5 separate regions of the Homo sapiens genome follow, and all the other regions are linked to region 2. The links come from fine-mapping of genetic effects on gene expression. A gene starts in region 2. Each other region holds a variant in brackets. All regions are shown on one strand. Distances are between the middles of the regions.

The links. PIP is the estimated chance that this variant, and not a neighbour inherited with it, causes the effect.
Region 1: its variant is fine-mapped to the expression of MYL5 in whole blood (TOPMed, PIP above 0.99).
Region 3: its variant is fine-mapped to the expression of MYL5 in prostate (GTEx, PIP 0.99).
Region 4: its variant is fine-mapped to the expression of MYL5 in whole blood (TOPMed, PIP above 0.99). The same link has a PIP of 0.9 or more in lung.
Region 5: its variant is fine-mapped to the expression of MYL5 in whole blood (TOPMed, PIP 0.96).

The regions. Positions count from the first base shown.
Region 1 is chr4:696,680-701,851 of GRCh38, forward strand. No RefSeq gene overlaps it. Among named protein-coding and RNA genes, the nearest start is that of PCGF3, 6.6 kb to the right of the region's middle. RefSeq lists an enhancer at 4,115-4,615. The variant A/G (reference allele first, on the strand shown) is at 3,029.
Region 2 is chr4:672,114-677,113 of GRCh38, forward strand. It overlaps MYL5 (myosin light chain 5), which reads left to right and starts at 2,429. Exons shown (of 9, transcript NM_002477.2): 1 at 2,429-2,570; 2 at 3,960-4,096. ATP5ME (ATP synthase membrane subunit e) reads right to left here and starts at 2,163. Exons shown (of 4, transcript NM_007100.4): 1 at 2,099-2,163; 2 at 1,799-1,853; 3 at 1,190-1,288; 4 at 323-406. The coding sequence starts at 2,134. The coding sequence ends at 387. It also overlaps a transcript of SLC49A3 not described here. RefSeq lists enhancers at 2,295-3,052, 2,930-2,999 and a silencer at 2,450-2,719.
Region 3 is chr4:327,088-332,259 of GRCh38, forward strand. No RefSeq gene overlaps it. Among named protein-coding and RNA genes, the nearest start is that of ZNF141, 8.1 kb to the right of the region's middle. The variant C/T (reference allele first, on the strand shown) is at 3,077.
Region 4 is chr4:279,210-284,381 of GRCh38, forward strand. All of the region lies in intron 3 of ZNF732 (zinc finger protein 732), which reads right to left. Among named protein-coding and RNA genes, the nearest start is that of ZNF732, 24 kb to the right of the region's middle. The variant G/A (reference allele first, on the strand shown) is at 2,420.
Region 5 is chr4:628,755-633,754 of GRCh38, forward strand. The region is part of intron 1 of PDE6B (phosphodiesterase 6B); the gene reads left to right. Among named protein-coding and RNA genes, the nearest start is that of PDE6B, 5.7 kb to the left of the region's middle. The variant CAA/C (reference allele first, on the strand shown) is at 2,487.

The DNA.
Region 1 (5,172 bases), 25 kb after region 2:
CAGGTAGGTATTGTGTGTGTGTGTGTGTGCGCGCGCACATGCCTGTGTGTAGTGTATGTGTCTAATTTCTCTGTGGGTATGACTGATATCTAACATTTTGTGTATAGTGTGGCATAACTACTTTGTGTATGTTATCAAATTTTTATTGAATATGTTGGAAATGAGCATCTATCTTTGTTTTTTGTTTTTGTTTTGTTTTTCTTTTTGAGATGGAGCTCCTTCTGTTGCCCAGGCTGGAGTGCAGTGGCGCGATCTCAGCTCACTGCAACCTCCACCTCCTGGGTTCAAGCGATTCTTCTGCCTCAGCCTCCCGAGTAGCTGGGATTACAGGCGCCTGCCACCACGTCTGGCTAATATTTGTATTTTTAGTAGAGACGGGGTTTCACCATGTTGACCAGGCTGGTCTGGAACTCCTGACCTCAGGTGATCCACCTGCCTCGGCCTCCGAAAGTACTGGGATTACAGGCGTGAGCCACTGCACCCAACCAATTTTGTTCTTTTTAAGGTTGTTTTGGCTATTCTGAGTCCCCTGAATTTCCATATAAATTTTAGGATCAGCTTGTCAATTTCTGAAAAAAGCTCATTAGGACTTTGATATGGATTGTGTTGAATGATTAGGTTGGAGACACCTTAACAATATTGTCTTCCCACCACGGACGCAGGACATCTTTCCATTTACTTAGACCTTCTTTAGATTCTTTTGGTCATGGTTTGTAGTTGTAGCTTTCAGAATATTAGTTTTGCACTCTTTGGCTACATTTATTTGCTTTTTAAAATTATTAGACTTTATGTTTCAGAGCAATTTTAGATTTACAGAAAAATCTATCAGAAAGTACGGCGTTCCCATATACCCCTCTCTCCCCCAAACCCTGCACTCCACTTCCCTGTTATCTACATCTCGCATGAGTTTGGTACTTTTGTTAGGATTGATGAACCGATATCGACACGATCTTCTTAACCGAAGTCCATCCTGAAGTCCACACTGGATGCTCTTTGTGCGGTGTGTTCTATATTGGTTAGTTAGTTAGTTTGTTTGAGACAGAGTCTCCCTCTCTCGCCCAGGCTAGAGTGCAGTGGTACGACCTCGGCTCACTGCAATCTCCGCCTCCCGGGTTCAAAGGATTCTCCTGCCTCAGCCTCCCAAGTAACTGGGATTATAGGCATGTGCCACCACGTCCGCCTAATTTTTGTATTTTTAGTAGAGACGGTTTTGCCATGTTGGCCAGGTCTCAAAACTCCTGACCTCAAGTGATCCGCCTGCATCAGCCTCCCAAAGTGCTGGGATTACAGGCGCGAGCCACCGTGCCTGGCCGTTGACATTCGATGTTTAACCTACACAGTTAACTGCACATTATTCCAAGATAGGCCAAGTCCATGCAGTGTCTCCAGGCTCTTCTGAGCAGGCCGGGGCTTTAGAGCGTGCTCCCTGCTCACCACACCACACGCAGCTTTCTGGTGGTCATTGCTGAGTTTTAGTTTTGTGTAAAAACACGCACACACAGGCCGGGCGCGGTGGTTCACGCCTGTAATCCCAGCACTTTGAGAGGCTGAGGCAGGCGGATCACCTGAGGTCAGGAGTTCGAGACCCGCCCAACCAACATGGTGAAACCCCGTCTCTATTAAAAATACAAAATTAAACTCCGTCTCTACTAAAAATACAAAAAATTAGCCGGACATGGTGGCACATGCCTGTAATCCCAGCTACTCAGGAGGCTGAGGCAGGAGAATCACTTGAGCCCGGGAGGCGGAGGTTGCAGTGAGCCGAGATCGCGCCACTGCACTCAAGCCTGGGGGACAAGAGCGAGACTCCGTCTGAAAACAAACAAAACAAAACAAAAAACTACACACACACACACACACACACACACACACACACACACAGGTGAACGGCTGGAATTATTTCTCCGGCGATGGTTAAATGATACTTGGGTTCAGTTGTTGGTGATGTGCCAGCTGCTCAGGGTCTGGTTCTTCTGACTCTTTTGTGGGCGTCCTGCCTCCCCATATCCGGCATCCTACCAGGCGTCCGAGCATGTTCCTAGCACGGTGTTTGCGTCTCCACCTGCAGAGTCAGGTTAGTCCTCAAGTCTGAAGCTCCTCACGACTCTCTCTTCCTCTGCTCTTGTGAGATCATCACGTCTGCGATTTCAGCCCTGCCTGGCTCCCCTGCGCTTCCACTGCTTCCCTGCCTCCCTGTCCTCAGCAGCGTCACTTACAGCCACACCAAGCTCTTCAACTGGTTTGTGAATTACCTCATGGACTGGTTTTCGTGTGTGTCCAGGACTATAAATTTTATTTCCAAGATTTCCACCTGGTTGATTGAAACAGGCATTCACTGATGCGTTCACCCAACAAACTCCCATGAGGCCTCCTCTGCAGGGCACCTGCGGGCACTTCCGGCTCCCAGAGGGGCCTGGCGTCTGGAGGGAGAAGTGGAAGGAGACTGAAGGGCGCCTGAGGTGGGCAGGCGGCACAAGCAGCAAGCGAGGGCGGCAATCTTTTTTTTTTTTTTTTTTGAGATGGAGTCTCGCTCTGTCGCCCAGGCTGGAGTGCAGTGGCACTATCTTGGCTCACTGCAACCTCTGCCTCCTGAGTTCAAGCAATTCTCCTGCCTCAGCCTCCCAGGTAGCTGGGATTCCAGGTGCCCACCACCACGCCCAGCTAATTTTTTTTGTATATTTAGTACAGATGGGGTTTCACCATGTTGGCCAGGCTGGTCTCAAACTCCTGACCTCAGGTGATCCACCCACTTTGACCTCCCAAAGGGTTGGGATTATAGGCGTGAACCACCGGGCCCGGCTGATTTTCAACATTACCAAATATCTAATCAGTGTCCCTCACCACGATTGTTGCGTAATGTGCTTCGTTTCGTTTTCAGTTTGCGTGACTCAGGATGCAAATCAAGCCATAGGTCTACACTCACTTCCTCTCGATTGTTTCTCTCATTGTATCTTCTTCAATCCCCTGCACAGCTGGTTGTGGAAGAAACAGTTCCTAGTCCTGAGAGTTTCTGCTGACATTCCAAGGC[A/G]TCTCCCGCCTGTCCCCGAATTCTATAAATCAGTGTGAGACCCGGAGGCCTAATCAGTGTCTTAGTGTGGGTCCCCAAGAAGCAGAGCCTGAGCTAAGGGGCTTGGGGTGGGTTGGGCTGGGATCTTTCCTCGGGCGACCACCTTAGGGAGTCAGAAAGGGGCAGAGAGTGTGAAATGGGAAGAAACAGCAACGCTGAAGAAAAGGTGCATCCCAGGGCTGCCTGAGTCCCTGGGAGAGCTCCCCCTGCACCGTGGGCCCCAGCCAGAGAAGGCCTGGGACGAAGACCCACTGGGGGGCCTCCCACGGAGCAGCCAGAGGGGCGAGGCTGGGTGGGGGGACGGAGCACCTGCTGCACCTGTATTCAGGGTGGATTTTTAAGCAAGATCTCGTTGTAGCCGTGTCGCTTTCCTACCAGGAGGCCCATGACATCCGGCTGTCTCTCTGGTAATGTTCATATCAATGACGGTTGTTACCTGTGTCATTATCTCACTGGGGCTGTGACGGGGGAGAGTTTATTCTATACTTTCTTCATTTACCAGCTGCAATGTTCCTAGAGAGAAGCCAGCACTCGCCAGATCTTTGGCCACCCCGAGGTGTCGTGTGCATAAGGGAAGATGAGAGGCTGGTTGACGCCCACCCTTCACCAGTTTTGTAAATAACAAGCTGGCGCCCCAGAACCCATCCACAGCAGCTTTTTCAGTGGCATTATGCATTCGTGGTGCAAGCATCCTTACTGTGCTTCAATCAGTGGCTTCAGTCGTGGCCGGCGCACACTGATGGAGTTTCTTCCTCGTCGCGGGTCATATTTTCCTCTTTGCATGTCTGATGACTTTTGATTAGATGCAGGCGTTGTTCACTTTCCCTGTTGAGTTCTGAGTATATTTGCATTCCTATTAAATATCCCTGTGTTTTGCTCTGGACACAAAGTCAAGTTACTTGGAGACACATTGGTCCTTCCAGCCTTCTGAGCTTTGGAGTCTGGACCAGCGCAGAGTTCGCTCCTGTCCCACAGCTGACCGCCCTGCCTGGTGCCCCTGGGACGACGAGGACATCCTGGGGCCGGAGGGGGTGCAAAGACTCCCAGCCCTGTTCCGCCAGCTTCTTTCCAGAGTCCTTGCCAGCTCCGGGCAGCTCCCACATGCCTGCCCCATCCTGGAGCTCTGGCTGTGGGCAGTCCCTCCTCTCCGTCCCTGCCCTGTGGACTCTGGTGTGTGGGCCTCCCTGACTCCCAGCTTTGCCTCCTCCGCCCAGCTCCTCTCCCTGAGTTGCAGCCAGGAGGCTTCCTTTAGGCCTCGCCCCATTTGCTCCTCTCTCAGGCACCATGTCCTGTGCTCCCTGATGCCCAGTGTCTGAAGATCGTTGGATGTATTTTGTCCACTGTTTCAGCTGCTTCGGGAAAGAGGGTAAACTCACGCCCTGCACACACATGCCGATGGCACAGAGATTGAGGCTGTGAGCTTTGCCTCCCCCTGGTGTGAAAATACGTCATCTTCTGGCTTTGCAGTCAGTGCTGTGCACCTCAGTTTTGATCTGCCTTGTAGTTTTATGAGTCTCATGAGGGAATTCGGGGAGATACAAAATTCTTGCTACTGCCACCATCTTCCCAGAATCCACAGGGATTTATTTATTTATTTATTTTATTTTGAGACAGGGTCTTCCTCTGTCATCTGGGCTGGAGTACAGCGGTGCAATCTCGGCTCACTGCAACCTCCACCTGCTGGGCTCAAGCAATCCTCCCACCTCAACCTCCCAAGGAGCTGAGGCCACAGATGCACACCACCATGCACCACCATGCCCAGATACTTGTTGTTGTTTATTTTTAGTATAAACAGGGTTTCACCATGTTGCTCAGGCTGGTCTTGAACTCCTGGGTTCAAATGATCCACCAGTCTCGGCCTTTCAAAGTGCTGGGGTTATAGGCATGAGCCACTGCACCCCACCTATTTTTATTTTTTTATTTTTTATTTTTTTTAAGAGACAGGGGCCAGGCATGGTGGCTCATGCCTGTAATCCCAGCACTTTGGGAGGCCGAGACAGGTGAATCACTTGAGGTCAGGAGTTCGAGACCAACCTGGCCAACATGCCAAGACTCCATCTCTACTAAAAATTCAAAAATTAGCCAGGTGTGGTGGCTTATGCCTG
Region 2 (5,000 bases):
CCCTCCCCATCCAGGGGTCTGGGCTGCTGAGAGCAGCAGCCTAGAACTCAGAATCAAGACAACCCCAGTACTCATGAGGCCCCCAGCTGACTGACTCCATTACAGACGGCCTTTGGGGCTCCCCACCTGGATGCCCCAGACAGAACAGGCAGCGCGCATCTGTCCTTCCCACTGTGTTTACATGATGCATTCTGGGTCTGTGAATGGTAATGTGGATTCTTTTGAAACCCCCTCCCTGTCTTCCACCTCACGTGAACTGGGAGGTGGACAGAACTTCAACCTAGGAATTCCACAACCAGCGACAGCAAATGAGGAGCCGGAGTATCACACAACACAGGAAGCTTTATTCATCCGCTGCTGGTCCAAAGAGTGGGTCGCAGGGTCACTCACTTTAATATGCTGTCATCTTGGGCCGGAAGGTTAGAAGAAAAGCACATGTTACCACTCAGGCAACCTAAAAAGACCACTTCAGCTTCCCAGTTATTTTTTTTTTTTTTTTTTTTGTTTTGAGACGGAGTCTCGCTCTGTCACCCAATGGCGCAATCTCAGCTCACTGCAACCTCTGCATCCCAGGTTAAAGCGATTCTCCCACCTCAGCCTTCTGAGTAGCTGGGATTACATGCACCCGCCATCATGCCTGGCTAATTTTTTTTAGACAGAATTTCACTTTGCTGCTCAGGCTGGAGTGCAGTGGCGTGATCTCAGCTCACTGCAACCTCCGCCTCCCGGGTTCAAGCAATTCTCATGCCTCAGCTTTCTGAGTAGCTGGGATTACAGGTGCCTGCCACCATGCCCGGCTGATTTTTTGTATTTTAGTAGAAATGGGGTTTCACCATCTTGCCCAGGCTGGTCTCGAACTCCAGAGCTCAGGCAATCTGCCTGTCTCAGCCTCCCAAAGTGCTAGGATTACAGGCATGAGCCACCGCACCGGGCCATGCCCGGCTAATTTTTGTAGAGACAGGGTTGCACCATGTTGGTCAGGCTGGTCTTGAACTCCTAACCTCAGGTGATCTGCCCGCCTTGGCCTCCCAAAGTGCTGGGATACAGGCATGAGCCACCACGCCTGGCCAGCTTCCCCATTTTTAAACAATCCGCATCTACTTAGCTCTGCTTAAATGTCCTCCTCCATTTTCCTTATCCCTGCACAAACCTGGGAGGGACAATCTATAAGAGCCAGTGTCACTCGTACCTTCTGCCAATTCTCTGGCAATCCGTTTCAGTTCATCCTGCTTCTTCTTCTCTTCTGCTGCTATCCTCCTCTCCTCTTCTGCCCGAGGTTTTAGGTAATCTGTTTGGCGGAATGCAGGAGAATAAAATTCACTGGAAATGCTGTACAAAAGGAACTGAGTCCACAGGTCAAGGTATCTTCAGCGACGCTGTAAACCAGACGCACCTGCTGTTCCCGCTCTTTATGTTAATGCGAGTCAACGCCTGACCTTCACCCTGACGAGTCCAACCCAGAGGCTACAGGGCCCCTGCTGCCCACCCGCTCACGCACTGGCTCACTCGTCCTCTGCGAACAGGGACTGCCTCCCATCAAGACCTCAGCACTCGAACAGCCATTTAGCACCCGTTTTCACCAAGAAGCAGCCGTTTTCGAGTCCCCCGCCCGGGCCTCAGAAGCCTGAGCTTTGGGTGAGCTGATTCCACTATCGGGGTCACGCTCGGTGGAGGACACGGTCCTGCAGCCTCGCATGCGTCCCAAGCCCCCTTCCAGAGCTGGAGTTCTCCAAATAGCACAGGAGCTCCACAGGAAAGCCGAGCAGACCCCGCCCCGGCCCCGCCCGCGGTCACTCACTGTAGCGCGTGGCTCCGTAGGCCACACCGAGGAACAGGGCGGAGTAGCGGCCGAGCTGCGAAAGAGGTTGGTCAGAGGCGGCGCGAAACGGGGCTCGCGGGACGGGGGTCGCGGGAGGAGGGGGGGCGGGGTCGCTGGGCAGAGGTCGCAGGAGGGGTGGGGGTCCGGTCGCCGGGCGAGGGTCACGGGGCGAGGATCATGGGGGCGGGGGCCGGGGGTCGCAGCCCGCGGGGTCGGAGCTGCGGGGCGGGACACGGGGGGGCCCAGAGCACTGGGCGGCGGCTGCAAAGCCTGGATCACCTTGATGAGCGGAGAGACCTGCACCGGTGGCACCATCTTGTCCCTGACCTCCGCACCGGAAGCACAACCTGCAGACGGAGCAGGATGCCGCACAAGCCAGCAAAGCCTTGGAGGCAAAGGCGGAGCTGGGCGCACGCATGCGCCGTCAGCGGCGAGAGAGCGGGGGGCCGCGCCCCCTGGCGACCGAAGGGTGACTGCGCGCCCCCGCGCGGCGGTGACGTCACGTGAGGCGCACGCGCACAAAGGCTGGGGAGTGCGCGGAGGATCATCGGCTGCGCCTGCGCAGTTGCTGCGTGAGGCGGGATCTGCGCCGAGTGGGCGGGGGGTTTCCTTTCCCCGCAGGGCTGGGGGTCCGCTGTTTCCCCGCGCTGCTGCCGAGGCCCCGCCGTCCGCGTCCTGGCCGTGTGTCCACACCCCAGACTGCGGGCCGGGGCGCACTCTGTCTTCTTGCGCGGAGCGTCGGAGGCCTGAGGTCAGGGCGGCTCGGGCGGGTCCAGCCCCGCGGACCGCGCCCACCCGAGGGTGGCCTGGGCAGGGACCTGGGGGTCCTGGGAGCGGAGTGTGAGCCGAGTGCAGGTGGCTCCCCGGGCAGGTCCTTCTCCTACAAGGCAGTAGTGTCTGTCGCCGGCCGGGCCGCGTTGGATTCCGCGGCCCGCGGGAGCATGGCCTCCAGGCCCCTCTTCCTGCGGCTGCTCTGCCCGGGAGCACGGGGCGCCCTTCATCCCGGAGCTGGAGCTTCCTCACCCCAGGATGCCCCATCACTTCTGTCCCGAAGAGGGGCTGGGATCTTCTTGGGAAGACCAGCCCCCAACAGAGGCTGCTCCCTGGGTCCCCCGACTCCAGGCCTCAGGACTCCACGGCTCCAAGGGCCTGCCCCGGCCCAGGCCTGGGGACCACTGAGCCCCACACTGGTCTTTGCTGGCCTCTGTCCACCTCCCGGTAGCTGTGTGTCTCCCACAGCTGCCCAGAGATGGGGCCTGCGGTGCCTATGCAGCCTCCCCGCTGTGCCCGAAGTGCTGACCCGCCAGCCCCATGGACACCAGGCTTGGAGTCTAGGCAGGAGCCTGGCACCCCCTCCACGTTCTGGGTCTTCCTGGCGGCAGCCATGCTGCCCGTGCTGGGCCACCCTCGGGCCCCCTTTGGCCCCATGCAGTAGTGACGCAAGGCCTCCTGTGTCCCCTCCTGGCCCTGCACTGCTACAGGCAGAAGCAACTGGAGAACTATGGCTCGGGTCTCGCTAAGGTGCAGCATCACAAACTCCAGGACTCTTGAAGCAAGCATGGGGAGGACCCGTGATCCTGGCGGCCTGGGCTACCTGTCCGGGCCTAAGTCGCCTCTGCCCCCTCTCCTGGCTTGCTCTGGGGTCCAGGGCCTGGGCCTCTCTGGCTGAGAAACTAGGAAGTCACTGGGCTCTGTTTCCTGAGCTGGGTATACCAAGGCCAGTCCTATAGGGCAGGGGTCCCCAACCCCCAGGTGCAGACCAGTACCAGCTTGTGGCCCGTTAGGAACCGGGCAGCACAGGACGAGGTGAGGGAGCATGATTGCCCGAGCTCCACCCACTTTCAGATCAGCCTGGGCATCAGATTCCCATAGGAGCGTGAACCCTACTGTGAGCTGCGCACTTGGATCTGGATTGCGCTCTGGTGAGAATCTAATGCCTGATGAACTGAGGTGGAATAGTTTCATCCCGAAACCTTCCTCCCCAACACGGAAAAACTGTCCTCCGTGAAACCTGTCCCAGGCGCCAAAAAGGTTAGGTACTTGCTGTAGGGCCACCTGATCTTTTCTCCAGCTTCTGTGAGGTTGGCTGGCAGTCCCTGAAGACTCCTGCCTGAGGCCTCTGCCTGAACCCTGTCCTCAGGGGGCCAGAAGCAAACTCCAGCCCTCCCCGTGTCTACTGCTCGCTGAGGAAGCCGCAGGTGCACACTGGATCCACAAGGCACAGAACCATCTTGGCCCTCGGCAAGCCCCCGCTTCCGCCAGGGCAGACGGCCTCAGGTGACAATGGGTTTTCCCTTCACTGGAGTTTAAAATAATCCAGACTCCTCAGCAACTCCTGCTTCCAGAATCAAAAATAAGTGTCTCTGGGGCCCAAGGTAGGGGGTGAGGGGGACATACCAGCAGCTTCCACCAGAGGTGGGGCGGGGCAGGGCACCAGCAGAGAAAACATGCGGGCAAACACACACGGCCTGGGGAAAACCCCCTGAAGCCAATGGAGACTTGCCTTTGCTCAAGGCCTTTCCTGAGAGCTTAGTGGTGGGACGGGTCCCACCTGGCTCAGCACACCGCCCGCAGGGGCCTCTGCAGCTGTCAGGTCAGCTGTGGGTGCAGAAGCCGATACTCCCCCGGCTCAGGCTTGCTGCTATCTTTAGCACTGTGCTCAGACTCCAGTGGCCTGGGAACCCTCTGCAGGGGGCTCTGCAGCCCTTCTCACATTCCCGGTGGCCTCGGGGGGCCTCCCAACCATGCTTCCCCCCTCGGTGTGGTTCTCCCCACTCCTGCAGCCCAGCAGTGCCCCTTCAGGATCACACCCAGACCCCACTGGACTGGCAGCAGGGGATGCCCTGGCCCTTGCTCCCAGCCCCAGGGTTCCACATCTGGTCACCTGACACCTTGCAGTCGGCCCCAGGTCCCTCCTGGGCAGGTCATGCCTCCAGGGTCCTCAACCTCAGGAGTCAGTGCTTCATAGAGGCCGCTGGACCTGGGGATGGCACCAGGCAGCATCTCAGGGGACGCCAACTGTGACCATGTGTCCCTCAGGGGGTAGGACCTCTGCTCAAGAGACATGCAAGTGGCACCTGTCTTTTTAGCCTTGCAGACACGGTGGCGCCCCCAGGGATCCCACCTGCTGTTGTGGCTGCATATAGTCACTCCCACCACTGCCCCTGCAGCACCGAGGGGC
Region 3 (5,172 bases), 340 kb before region 2:
TGAGTTCTCCCAGCAGGGGCCTCCAGCTGCCCCACCCATATTCTATGAACAGAGTTCTGATTTCTCTCTGGGATGGAATGCCCATGGTGGAGGGGCGCCCTGCCACCTTGGCTGTTTGGGGGACTAAGCCATTTAAGCCTGAGGGTTTGGAGAGTCCAAGCAGATTTGGGCAGAGGTGGTTCCCCAGCATGCCATGGCTGTTTTGTTGAAGCATAGTCCTACTGCTTCTTTAAGTGGGACCCCAATTCATTCCCCCTTGCTGGGCGGGTCCTCCCAGCCAGGGCCTCCATCTACTTCTGCCCAAGTTCTAAGGCCAATAGAGTTCTAATTTCTCCGTGGGATGGAGTGCCCAGGGGGTGCGGTGGGCCACCATTTTTGCTGTTTGGGCAGGTAAGTTAGTGCAGACTGTGGGCTTTGGATAGCCCAAACCATTTGAGAGCTGAAGGAATCCACAACACAGCACAGATGCTCTACCAAAACACAGCCAGACTGCTTCTTTAAGTAGGCTGCTGACCCCATTCCTCCTGGTTGGGTGAGACCTCCAATCCAAAGCCTTCAGCCACCTTCTACAGGTGTGTTCAGGCAGGCAACAGGTCAGTATGCATTCTGACCTGACAAAGGGGCAGGCTGCCATCTTTGCTGTTTCACAGCCTTAACTGGTGATACTTCCAGATACTGAAAAAGCCAAGGGCACCAGGGTCTGGAGCAGACCTCCAGAAAACCACAGCAGCCCTACACACAGTGGTCAGACTGTTAAAAGAAAAACAATAAATAACAAAAAATAACCACAATAACCCTATCCAAAGGTCAGCAATCTCACACATTGAAATAGATAAGCCCACAAAGATGAGAAGTGGCACAAAAATGATGAAAACTCAAAAGTCAGAGTGTGCCCTTTTCTCCAACTGACAGCAACACCTGTCCAGCAAAGGATCAGAACCAGGCTGAGGCTGAGATGGCTGAAATGAGAGAAGTAGGCTTCAGAATATGAATACAGATGAACTTGGCTGAGCTAAAAGGGCACACTGTAACTCAATGCAACGAAGCTAAGAATCACGATAAAACAATGCAGGAGCTGGCAGCCAAAATAGCCAGTAAGAAGAGAAACACAAACGACTTGATAGAGCTGAAAAACACACTACAAGGCCTCCACGATGTAATCACAAGTATTAATAGCAGAATAGACCAAGCGGAGGAAAAAACATCCCAGAGCTTGAAGACTGTCTTCCTGAAATCAAACAGGCAGACACAAATAAAGAAAAAAAAAAAGGAATGAATGAAACCTTAGAATATGGGATTGTGTAGAGAGTGAATATACAACTGATGGGGGTAGCTGAAAGAAATGGGGAGAACTGAACCAAATTGGAGAACATATTTCAGGATATCATCCAGGAGAACTTCCTCAACCTAGCTAGACAGGCCAACATTCAAATGCAGGAAATGCAGAGAGCCCCACTAAGATATTCCATGAGAAGATTACTCCCAAGACAGGTAATCATCAGATTCTCCAAGGTCAAAATGAAATAAAAATATCTTAAGGGCAGATAGAGAGTAAGGCAAGGCCACCTACAAAGAAAAGCTCATCAGACTAACAGCAGACCTTGTGGGGGTTCAGACAGACTGGTGAAAAAAGTTTTAGTTATAATAGCCATAAACCCTCTTGGAAGGCCTGAGGGTTTTGCAAAACTTCGGTAATAGATCTGGCTGAAGGCGGCCTGGTCACTTTACCTTAAGTTATTAACTTAGGGCACAAATACAAACGGATGTAGAGTAGTTTATCTAACTACCTTGTTTACTCATGTGGTCCTCAGACTAACCTTTGATCTTGGGTGCTTAATTGCTTTCTACTCGCGAAGTCGGCAATGTCAATTACCTTCTAGTGGTGTTTACTCAAAGTTTTGTTACTTAATCTTTACCAAATAAATGCAAGTTTCGCTGGCTGGTTGGTGTGGCGGCTGCTACTCCCTACAGCACCTCTGTTAGTCTGTGAGGCAGCCTGGACCCTCAGTTGCACTGGCAAAGCAGAATATCTGCATCAGTATACATTGTTCATCCGTCATTGAGTCAGGGTCAGCGGGTCGGACCCCCGCAAGACTTCTCACTGGAAACCCTACAAGCCAGAAGAGACAGAAATAACAGGCTGGGCACAGTGGCTCATGCCTGTAATCCCAGCACTTTGGGAGGCTGAGGCAGGCAGATCACTTGAGGTCAGGAGTTTGAGACCAGCCTGGCCAACATGGTGAAACCCCGTCTATAATAAAAATACAAAAAATTAGCCAGGCATGGTGGTGCATGCCTGTAATCCCAGCTACTTGAGAGGCTGACGCAGGAGAATCGCTTGAACCTGGGAGGTGGAGGTTGCAGTGAGCCAAGATCATGAATCGCACTCCAGCCTGGGCAACAAGAGTGAAACTCTGTCTCGAATACATACATACATACATACATACATACATACATACATACATATATATATATATATATACCTATGTAGGGACCAGCCCCACAGAGTCTGTGGGTTTTTCTCTCCGTGTGCGGAGATGAGAGATCGTAGAAATAAAGATACGAGACAAAGAGATGAAAGAAAAGACAGCTGGGCCCGGGGGACCACTACCACCAAGACGCAGAGACCGGTAGTGGCCCCGAATGCCTGGCTGCCCTGTTATTTATTGGATACAAAGCAAAAGGGGCAAGGTAAAGAGTGCGAGTCATCTCCGGTGATTGGTAAGGTCACGTGGGTCACGTGTCCACTGGACAGGGGGCCCTTCCCTGTTAGGTAGCCGAAGCGGAGAGAGAGAGGACAGCTTACGTCATTATTTCTTTTACGCTCTTTTCAGAAAGATCAAAGACTTTAATACTTTCACTAATTTTGCTACTGCTGTCTAGAGGGCAGAGCCAGGTGTACAGAGTGGAACATGAAAGTGAAACAGGAGCGTGACCGCTGAAGCACAGCATCACAGGGAGACGGTTAGGCCTCCAGATAACTGCGAGCAGGCCTAACTGATGTCAGGCCCTCCACAAGAGGTGGTGGAACAGAGTCTTCTCTAAACTCCCCTGGGAAAAGGGAGAGTCCCTTTCC[C/T]GGTCTGCTAAGTAGCGGGTGCTTTTCCTTGGCACTGATGCTACAGCTAGACCATGGTCTGCTTGGTAATGGGCATCTTCCCAGACGCTGGCGTTACCGCTAGACCAAGAAGCCCTCTAGTGGCCCTGTCTGGGCATGACAGAAGGCTCGCACTCTTGTTTTCTGGTCACTTCTCACCGTGCCCCCTTCAGCTCCTATCTCTGTATGGCCTGGTTTTTCCTAGGTTATAATTATAGAGCAAGGATTATTATAATGTTGGAATAAAGAGTAATTGCTACAAACTAATGATTGATATTCATATATAATCATATCTATGATCTATATCTAGTATAACTCTTGTTGTTTTATATATTTTATTACACTGGAACAGCTCGTGCCCTCAGTTTCTTGCCTCGGCACCTGGGTGGCTTGCTGCCCACATACCTAAATGGTTTTTATGATATTATTATTACATTTTGTTCTTAATTTTCAGTATGTTGATTGCTGTTATATAAAAGATTTAACCTTGTCTATTAATCTTGTATTTTGTGACATTAATAAAATTTTTTATTAACTGAAGTATGTTTTTGGTAAATTTATCATAGTTTTTAACCCAATATTATGGCAAGATAATAGTATCCTACTTCTTTTCTAATCTGAAGATTTTATTTATTTTTCTAGTATACTTTTCTGGCTAATACTTCCAGGACAGTGTAAAAACAGAGTGGAAAAAGTGTACATTCTTGTTCCATTTTTAAACTTACAGATACAGCCTGCAATCATCTACCGTTAAGTATACTATTAGCTATTGATTTCTTTTTTTTTTTTTTTTTTTGAGACAGAGTCTTACTCTGTTGCCTAGGCTGGAGTGCAGTGGCTCAATCTCGGCTCACTGCAACCTCTGCCTCCCGGGTTCAAGCGATTCTCCTGCCTCAGCCTCCTGAGTAGCTGGGATTACAGGCACACACCACCACGCCTGGCTAATTTTTGTATTTTTAGTAGAGATGGGGTTTCACCATGTTGGTCAGGCTGGTCTCAAACTCCTGACCTCCTGATCTGCCCACCTCTGCCTCCCAAAGTGCTGGGATTACAGATGTGAGCCACCGTGCCCAGCCAGCTATTGATTTCTTATAGATGCTTTTTAGCAGGTCTTACAAGTTCCTTTCTACTAGATTTCTGAGTGTTTTATCATGAACGGGTGCTGGATTTTTTATACTTTTTTTGCTTATTTACATTGACACTTTTTTCTATTGTTCAAGTAACATTTTGTAATATTTTGGTTGATTTTAAAAATATTAAGCCAACACTCCATTTGTGACAAACTATTGCTTGGTTATGGTATGTAATCAGTTTTACATGTTGCTGGATTTAGTGTGCCAACATTTCTTTTTTTTTTTTTTTTGAGATGGAGTCTTGCTCTGTCACCCAGACTGGAGTGCAGTGGCACAATCTCGGCTCACTGCAACTTCTGCCTCCTGGGTTCATGCGATTCTCCTGCCTCAGCCTTCCAAGTAGCTGGGACTACAGGTGCGCGCCACCACGCCCAGCTAATTTTTGTATTTTTAGTAGAGACAAGGTTCCACCATGTTGGCCAGGATGGCCTTGATCTCTTGACCTCATGATCCGCCTGCCTCAGCCTCCCAAAGTGCTGGATTACAGTCATGAGCCACCATGCCCAGCCGTGTGCTAACATTTCTAATAACTTCATCAGGAATTCTATATTTATATGGAATTTTAGTCCATAGTCTTCTTTACTTGTGATTCTTTTGTCTGGCTTTGGTATCACAGTACCCCTAGCTAGTAAATTAATAGAAAAATGTTACCTCTGCCATTGATGAAAGTTTATGTGAAAAAATTATATTACATTTTTATTAAATGTCAGTGAAATTCAGAATTAATGCAATTTGACACTGAGCTTTTATATGTAAAAATAATTTAATTAATACTTTCTATTGTTATATGGGTATTCACTTACTCTCATTTAATATATATGGATGTATATTCTTCATTTTTGCACAATGAAAACTGATTTCTCAGCATTATTTGTTGAACAAACTTCCTCCATTGGAATTTCTTGGCATCTTTGACAGAATTATTTTTACCTCAAATTAATACCT
Region 4 (5,172 bases), 390 kb before region 2:
GGGCAGATCACGAGGTCAGAAGATCAAGACCATCCTGGCTAACACGGTGAAACCTTGTCTCTACTAAAAATACAAAAACAAAAAAAATTAGCTGGGCGTGGTGGTGGGCGCTTGTAGTCCCAGCTACTCTGGAGGCTGAGGCAGGAGAATGGCGTGAACCCGGGAGGCAGAGCTTGCAGTGAGCCAATATCACGCCACTGCACTCCAGCGTGGGTGACAGAGCGAGACTCCGTCTCAAAAAAAAAAAACAACAACCAGACATTATATTATATAATTACACCAATAAGAATATAAAAATCAGTCAAAATTATAGAAATAGTAAGTAAAATGGTGTTCTTCAGGACCTGAAGAGAAAAAAATGGCAGTTTATTGTTTATGAGGTATGAACTTTACTTTGATAAAATTAATCTAGAGATCCATTTCAAAATAATGTAAATGTACTTAACTCCACTAGGCTGTACACTTGAAAACCTTTAAGCAATGTTAGGTTTTTCATCACAACTAAATATTTACATCTACCTAAAAAGGTTACATTTTTCAAAAATCACCTTCAAATAAAAAGTGTTTCTCTCACAGAATAACATATACTCAAACAATAAATAGGTGGTAATTTTTTACTGTTTCTTTGACTACTCACCTATAAAAGAAAACAGTGATGACCACCAGAAAGAAAAATTTATAAACCAGGTAGGGGCATTATTTACACAGGCAAACACCACATAGATAACTTTTATAGGCTATAGAAATGTCTGAATTACACATATATTTTAAATTGCTCCAAGTGAAACCCAATGATTTTTATTTGAATTAAACACCACATGGTCATAAAAGGTACAGAGTTGAAAATTACCATACAAATATGAAGATTAAAAACAAAAAATAATTGAGGAGAACCTACATGAAAAAAGACTCCCCAGTAAAATAGAGTTTGAAAACAATAAAAAATTCTGACCTATAAAATATAGAATATAGATGTAGATGTATCATAAAAACAATCCTTCAAACAACTACAGTTTTCAACTGTGACTATGTACTTATGAAGATCCAGCATTTTGAATCTTTGACATGCAATGTACAGCAGTAAGAAAAAAAAAAAAAACGGCCAGCTGCAGTGGCTCACACCTGTAATCCCAGCACTTTGGAAGGCTGAGGCAGGTGGATCTCAAGGTCAGGAGTTCGAGACCAGCCTGACCATCTCTACTAAAAATACAAAACAAAAAAATTAGCCGGGTGTGGTGGCTGGCGCATGCCTGTAATCCCACCTACTCGGGAGGCTGAGGCAGGAGAATTGCTTGAATCCGAGAGGCAGAGGTTGCAGTGAGCTGAGATGGTACCATTGCACTCCAGCCTGGGCAACAAGAGCAAAAAATTCTGCCAAAAAAAAGCAGCAGTTATGTCCTGAAAAAGGAAATTTATGGGAGCTTTGGAATCCATGTCAAGGGTTGTGAACCCAAGACTGAGGAGGGCTGTATTGAAAAGGCATGCCCTTGCTTGAGTGGCATGCTTGCCCATCACAGTCCCAGCTACAGAATAAAATGTGTCCAATTTTCATTGTAGACTTAGCTGCAGACCATTTGGTTTTGTTCCTGCTACTAGCACCATCTGCAAAGACACCTAGGAGAATTTCTAATGTTCTATGCCTCAGGTGAAAGGCCTTTAGAAGTTGGTTCTATCTGTGATCTCTGAATTAGCCCCAAATCCACTCTTTACACATGTCAGTCATGGTGTGGAAGGAATCCTGCCCAGACACCCACAGAGAGAAACATCCATCTGTGCCCGAATGTAGGCTTGCCAATAATTATTTGACAGTGGATCTTGACGTGGCACTATAAGCTGGCTCCAAGTCCATGCAACCAAGTCCAGAAGAAGTTTTTCCTAACCTGGGACCTGCCAAAAAGCACACCTGTATGTGCCCCTGTAGGCATGCTGGCTGACTTTATTCCCACTGTGAATTGTAAAGCAGTCCTATAACCAAGCTCTGGTCTCTGTCATCTAGAGTCTGGAAGAAGTCCTACCCACCTAGAAATCCACAGGGAGAAATACCGTTAACCCAGAAAAAGACCTGAACACTTTGGTCTCAGCTGTGTATCCTGAAGCAGCCGCATGAATCAGTTTCATACCCTCTCAGCTGTGATCAAGGGTCATTACTGCTCATCTAGGAACCTGTCCAATGACTAGGTTAGAGCATTTCCAAACACCTCGCAAGAGCGACACAGCAGGAGCCACACCTGCTCACATTGATTGTATCAGCACCTTAATCTGCATATATAACTGGAGGCTTTTTTCCTCAGTGCCAGTCATATTGATCAACATCTTGAAGAAAGTTCAGTCTTCTCAGAAAATAGAATCCACAACTGTCTGATGCCCTGATGACAGGTCTGCCAAGCAGGAATTTCACTGCAAACCCAGTAGTAGCTAC[G/A]TGACCCGGATTCCAAAGCACTTTATTGCAACCTCAGTGGAAATCTCATCAGCCCAGAAATCCAATGGGAGAAGATATTTACCTCCTCAAACTAGTCTATAATGACTGAAAGAGGTATTTACTCCTTCAGATGCAAGGACATCAAAACAAAGCCTCATGAATTATGAAGGATCAGGCAAACATAACAGCATGAAAGGAAACTAAAAATGCTCCAGGAAGCACTAACAATAAAACACAGATCTAAAAAATGGCTAACAGAGAATTTAAAATAATTATCTTTAAAAATCTCGATAAGATGCAAAAGTACACATATTACTAAATTTTTTGCAACAATGCATGAAGAAAACCAATGATAATAAAGAAAGATAAGCCATTAACAAAGAACCAAGGCGATATGCTGGAGCTGAAGTACACAATAGTAGAACTAAAATATTTAACAGAAAGCTTTAACAGGAGACTCAGTTATACAGAAGGGGAAAAATCAACAAACTTAAAAGTCATTTGAAAGTTCGTAAATAGACTTTTTTTAAAAAAGTGAATAAAGCATATAGCTTCAATAATTTGTTAATGGTATATAATATAAAAAGATGTAAAGTGTGACATAAATAGTGTGTTGAAAGGAGTAAAACTGTTTAATATTTTTATACATAGAAGTTCACTTTTGCTTGAGGCCAGGAGTTCAAAACCAGCCTGGTCAATATAGCAGGACCCTGTCTCTAAAATAAATACATAAATAAAATAAAATAAAGATTTCAGAAAGCTATTTATTCTTTTTTTAAAAAGAAGCAGTTGGGCCTGATAATGCATGCCTATAAACCTAGCACTCTGGGAGGCCAAGGCAGGTAGATTTCTTGAGCCCAGAAGTTCATGACCAGCCTGAGCAACATGGCAAAACCCTGTCTCTACAAAAAATACCAAAAAAATTAGCTGGACATGGTGGCATGTGCTTGTAATCCCAGCTACTTGGGAGGCTGATATGGGAAAAGTGTTTGATATTGGAGAGTTCAAGGCTGCACTGAGCTGTGAACCCACCACTGCACTACATCCTGGGAAACAAAGTAAGATCCTATGTGGGTAAAAAAGAAGTTAGATTGTTACCTTAAGCTAGACTTTTTAAACTATGAGATATTTTATGGTCCCTTGGAAATTACAAAAAAAAAAATGTTGAAGATACATACACACAAAAGAAATTAAAGCATATAACAAGAAAAATGAAACAAACTCAACACCATACAAGGGAAGGCAGCATGAAAGAAAAAACAGAAATTACTAAATGGTTAGAAAACAATGAACAAAATGATAGTAATAAGTTCTTATCAATCAGTAATTCCTTTAAATATAAAAAAAATTTAGTTAGCCAATAAAATCACATTGCTATGGTTTGAGTGCCCCCTCCAAAATTCATGTTAAAATGTAACTGCCATTGTGAGAAAATTAATAAGTGAGGCCTTTAAGAAGTTATAAGGTCATGAGAGGATCAGTATCATTATTCCACGAGTGGGTTAGTCATCATGAGTGGGTCTATCATAAAAGTGAGCTCGTGTTGTGATGTGGAAATATGATTGTCATCAGATGGGAATGACATGCTCTTGGACTTCTTGGCATCCCAGATTGTGAGCTAAGGAAACTTCTATTCTTTATAAATTACCAACTGTAGGATATTGTTATTGATGCAAAAAATAAACTAAAACACTCGCGAAATGTCTGAATAGATTTAAAAAATCAACAACATGCTGCACACAAGCGACTTACTTTAGATTTAAGGAAATACATAGGTTAGTGGTTCAAGGATGAAAAAAAAATTCCATGCCAGTAATAACTAAAAGAGTATAGAAGTGGCTATATTTACATCAGACAAAATAGACTTCTAAAAAAAATCTGCCACAAAAAAAAAAACTTCATGATATAGTGATAAGAGGCTAATCTGTCAAAAGAATATAACAATTAAAAATATATATATACCCAATATTGGAGCACATAAATATATAAACATATATTAAAAGAAATGGAGAAACAGAAAAACATAATACTGGGGGACTATATTGCCCTACTTAATACATCATTCAGACTGAAAGTTAGTAAGAAAACAATTGCTTGCATAGCACTATAAAACAACTGCACCAAAAGACATATATATAGAACATTTCATCCAAAAGAATAATTTATATTCTTCTCAAACACACATGGAATATTCTCTAGCATACATCATAAATCTGGCCCACAACAAAGACAAACAAGTCTTTTCATTTTTTAAAAGACTGAAATCATATCAACTTGTTTGTGTTTTTTTTAGTTTTTTTGAGAAGGAGTCTTGCTCTGTCGCCCAGGCTGTAGTGCAGTGGTGCGATCTCGGCTCACTGCAAGTTCCGCCTCCAGGGTTCACGCCATTCTCCTGCCTCAGCCTCCTGAGTAGCTGGGACTACAGGCACCCGCCACCACGCCCGGCTAATTTTTTTGTATTTTTAGTAGAGACAAGGTTTCACCTTGTTAACTAGGATGGCCTCGATCTCCTGACCTCGTGATCCACCCACCTCAGCCTCCCAAAGTGCTGGGATTATAGGCATGAGCCACCGAGCCCAGCCTGAAATCATATCAAGTTTTTAAATTACAATTTTATAAATGAGAAATCAATAGCAGAGTGAACATTGAAAATCTTACAAATATGTGTATATTAGACAACATGCTTCTGAACAACTGATGAGTCAAAGAAGAAAAAGAAAAGAAAAATCAGAAAGTATCTTGAGACAAATGAA
Region 5 (5,000 bases), 43 kb before region 2:
GGGCCTACAGGGAGCCCAGGCGGTGCCAGGCCACGTGGGACCAGCTTCTGGGAGGTGCAGGGCTTCAGCTGATGGCTCCAAGTCCCTGTCTGCTCCCAGAACCCCACGACTACACATGTTGTGTGTCACGGCAGCCCCTTGGGGAGACACAGCGAATCCCAGGGCCTGCACAAGGGGGGCCCTGCCGGGACTCAGGACTGAGCACAACCTTCCTGGAGCCTGGCCCAGGCCTGGGCATGGATTGTGAACCCTAAAACCTTGGGCTCAGGAACCACAGGTCCCAGAAGGCGGACACCAGGCCCCCCTCCATCCCTCCCAACATGTCAGAAGCCAATGGGCCAGCCGGGTGAGAGGCCCTGCCCAGCTACCCAGTGTTCATGGCTCCTAGACAAGCCTCTTGGCAGGAAGGAAGCACAGGTCGGGTGCAGAGAGGGAGGAGCGAGTGGGCCTGTGAGGTGGCATGGCCTTCCCCATCCCCCGCTGTGCACCCCGGGCAGGGACGCCGCCCACACCTGATGAGGGGGAAGCCACCAGCCCCCCCATCACCCCTTTGTGGCTCCTCAGACCTGCAAGAGTTCACAGCGAGGGCAGCTGGGATGGACGATCCTGGTGGGCTGGTGGGGCTCGGCCACGGCCACCAAGTGGCGGGGCAGGACTCACACCCCAGCTCTGACTGTGCAGCGGTTTCTGAGCCCAGCCCCAGCCGAACAGCCACGGACCCCGCAGTGCTGTGCATGCAGCCTCAGCCTCCACCACCTTCCAGCTCCTCTCCCTGGGACCGTCATGGGAACCCATCCCAAAGGCCCGTCCCGGGACCCTGGTGGGTCCCCTGCCCCCTGCCCCAAAACACCTCATCACGGGGTCCTGCACGTCGCCAGCAGTCAAGACCCTTCGACTCAGTCCTATGGTGGTCTCTACAAGGCTGGACAGAGCAGGGGCGTTGAGAACACGGGCTGGGTGGGAATCCGGAGATAGAGGGAGGAGGGTGGCAGGACCGGCCGTCAGCCATGCTGAGCACAGACGGCAGAGGAGGTGTGGGGCTTGGGCAGTTGGAGGTGCTTTGGAGAAGCCACAGTGGGTGTGAAGGCCCCAGAGCGAGGCCCAGCTGCTCGGCTATGTGAGCACACACAGCCCCCAGGCCTGCTAGAGGCAGAGCAAATGCAGGGGGTTCCCAGGAGCCTGAGAGTCCACAGCTGCCACCTGCTCCCAGACAAGGCTCCTGGCATGTCTGACCAGGAGCCTCTGGGGAAGTAGGGAAGCCCAGACTGGACAGTGGAGAGGAAGAGACCAGCAGGCAAGGACCCCCCGGCCAGGCATCACTACAGGGGACACAGAACCCAGAGGGCACCAGAGAGGAGAGACGGGGGGCCAGCAGGGGCCACGTGTTAATCTTCACCGACAGACACACGATGGTGTGGCTGCATTTCACAATGGGTGGGGCAGCTGGCAGTCGGACAGGGAGGCCGAGGGATCCATCCCTGTGGCCGAGGGGAGTTTGCAGGGCTGTCATCTCAGGAAGTGAAGGCTGGGCTGGGGTCGGGCTGCTGGGCCACGAGGGGCAGCGGGAGGGAGCCGCTGAGGCTGGAAGCTGCACCAGCCAGGCTGGGACCAGGGTGGCTGTGGCCCGGCTGGTACCGAGTGCCCATCCATGCAAGGGCAGCAGAGTGACCAGACGCTGGGGAAAGGAGAGCAGGTGTCAGTGAGAGAGTGGCCGGATGTTTCCGCGTGGGACTCTTTGCAGTCTCGATGGCAGACTTACAAAAAAGTAAACATTCCCTGTGGTGTTAGGGAAGCTGAGGAGGGCAGAGGGCAGAGTGCAAGCCAGGGTTTGGAGCAGATGTTCCTGGGGAGCCCCTGGGCTGGGCCAGCTGCTCGCAGAAGCCTGACAAGGTACAGGGAAGGAGGAACGAGGGGCAACCTCACTCAAAACCAGCTGCTCAGAGGAGCATAGCTTCTGGCAGAACCTCCGCGGTGGCCAAGCCCCAATTCCGGCTGCCTGCTCTGGACCTCTAAGGAGCTGTTCCTCTCGGTCCTAAGGGTGTGGGGGCTGGTGAGACACAAAGAGGCTGCAGTCACAAAGCCTCAGCGTGAAGGTCTCAGTGCTGGGACCAAGGGTGTATCTGGCACAGGCCTGGAAGGACCAGGGAGTGAATGGGGCCAGTGGTGAAGGAGAGAAGCTGTCGGCATAAGGATGGTAACGGCAGCCCACCTCAGCTGGGACAGCTGAAATGGAGCCAGGTGCCTGCTGAGACCAGTGACGCAGCCAGGAAGGCAGGGGACCCAGGAGCAGCTGTGAAGGAGAAAAGACGGCAGACGAACGGGCTGAGAGAGCATTTTACAGAGTCCTGAGTGCGCTTAAATCCCAGGATGGGGAGAGACTATGAAGAAGAGAAGGTGACAAATAGGGTGAGGTTCTTGGGTGGAGGGTAGGCCACAAGAGAGAGGCAGGAAGGCTCTGTGGCTGTTCCCATACTTTCTTTGTGAAA[CAA/C]GAGCTGTGAAAACGTGTGGGGCAGAGAGAAGTGACAGAGTCAGGTCTGAGATCCAGGAAGAAACTGGTAGAGACAAAGCTGGCAAGAGAAGTGAGGCTGAACATTGATCAACCATAGCCTGTGTGACTATGGGGCACCATCTGAGGGTCACTTTGTGTGGATCTGTGTGGCTCCATCTAAGAGTCACATTGTGTGGATCCTGTGGCACTGTCTGAGGGTTACATTGTGTGGATCCCTGTGGCGCTGTCTGAAGGTCATGTTATGTGGATCTGTGTGACACCGTCTGAGGGTTACATTGTGTGGATCCTTGTGGCACTGTCTGAGGGTTATGTTGCGTGGATCTGTGTGGCACCATCTGAGGGTCACATTGTATGGATTTGTGTTTGGGACCATCTAAGGGTCATGAGGATCACGTTGCGTGGATCCATGTGGCTCCATCTGAGGGTCACGTTGTGTGGATTTATGTGTGGGACCATCAAAGGGTCATGAGGGTCACATTGTGTGGGTCCATGTGGCACCATCTGAGGGTCACATTGTGGGGATTTGTGTGTGGGACCATCAAAGGGTCATGAGGGTCACGTTGTGTGGGTCCATGTGGCACCATCTGAGGGTCACGTTGTGTGGATCTGTGTGACACCATCTGCTATCTCAGGGTCACATTGCATGGATTCATGTGTCACCATCTGAGGGTCATCCTGTGTGGAACTGTGTGGCACCATCTGCTATCTCAGGGTCACATTGCATGGATTCATGTGGCACCATCTGAGGGTCATGTTGTGTGGATCTGCATGGCACCATCTGAGGTCATCCTGTGTGGATCTATGTGACACCATCTGCTATCTCAGGGTCACATTGCATGGATTCATGTGGCACCATCTGAGGGTCATGTTGTGCTCTTTCCAGAATCTCTGGTATATGTCCAGGTGTCACGCTGTGATCTGTGTGGCACCATCTGAGTGTCACGTTATGTGAATCCATGTGGTATCAGCTGAGAGTCATGCTGTGTGGATCCGTGTGGCACTGTCTGGGGGTCACGTTGTGTGGATTTGTGTGTGGCACCATCTAAGGGTCATCTTGTGTGATGCCATCTGAGGATCACATGTGGATCCATGAGGCACCGTCTGAGGATCATGTTGTGTGGATCCATGTGGTGCCGTCTGAGGGTTATGAGGGTCACATTGTGGGGATCTGTGTGGTGCCATCTCAGGGTCACGTTGTGTGGATCTGCGTGGCAGCATCTCTGGATCACGTTTTGTGGATCCATGTGGCACCATCTCTGGATCATGTTGTGTGGATCTGCATGGTGCCGTCTGGGGGTCACATGGTGGGGATCTGTGTGGTGCTGTCTCAGGGTCACGTTGTGTGGATCCGTGTGGCACCATCTCTGGATCACCTGTGGATCTGCGTGGTGCTGTCTGGGGGTCACATTGTGGGGATCTGTGTGGTGCTGTCTCAGGGTCACGTTGTGTGGGTCCGTGTGGCACCATCTCTGGATCACGTTGTGTGGATCCATGTGGCACCATCTCTGGATCACGTTGTGTGGATCTGCATGGTGCCGAGGGTCACATTGTGTGGATCTGTGTGGTGCCGTCTGAGGGTCATGTTGTGCTCTTTCCATAATCACTGGTATATGTCCAGGTGTCATGCTGTGAAGATCAGCAACCAGGGAAGGACCCCAGGTGAGGGTGTCAGTGAGGTTGGCAAGGGATGGGTAAAAGGATGGGCTCCAGGTAGAAAGGGAGGGAAACAGTAACAGAGACTCTGAATTCATCAGGGAGCACACATGGTGGCCACTGTAGCACTGACGGCTGGTGGAGGAGACACTGTCCAAACTGCCACAGGCACAACAGGCACCACGACAAGCAGGCAGGAGTGTGCTGTGCTTGGCCTCAGGGGACACAGGTGCAGAGATGAGCCCTCGGGGGACGCAGGTGCAGAGATGAGCCCTCAGGGGTTGCAGGTGGTGAGATGAGCCCTCCCTCAGGGCCCATCCCTGTTTCAGATCCAATAAAGGGATGCTGGCTCCACTGCCCACGCTGCCACCCCTGCCAGGGCTCACTCACCCGTCTTCCTGCTCCACCATCTTTTAAATGCTGGTTTTCCTTCAATGCCAGCCCACATGGCTATGGGCAGCAGCTGTATCTCCAAGAATCAGGAAATGAGGAGCAGGAAGGGTGGGTGCCATTTAGGAGCACGCTAGCACCTCGGCCAGCCCCCAGCAGGCTTCCTCTGACCTCTCAACCTTGCTGCAGGGGAAGGGGGTGGAGGGGAGTTGCGAGGAGTCTGCCCTCTGCTGCTGCAGGGCCACCGTCCCTAGAAACAGCAGGAGATGTGAGGCGCATCCCAGGAGCTCCCATTCAGCTGGCGCAGTGGCTGAGGGCAGAGCCTGTTATTTTTGCCCCATTGACTGGTGAGGAGAAGGCCACAGAACCACCCTGTGCCCACTGCAGGTCGCACAGGTGGGAAGTCCTGACCCCAGCAGGGCTGACTCCGGAGCCGTCCACCTGGGTC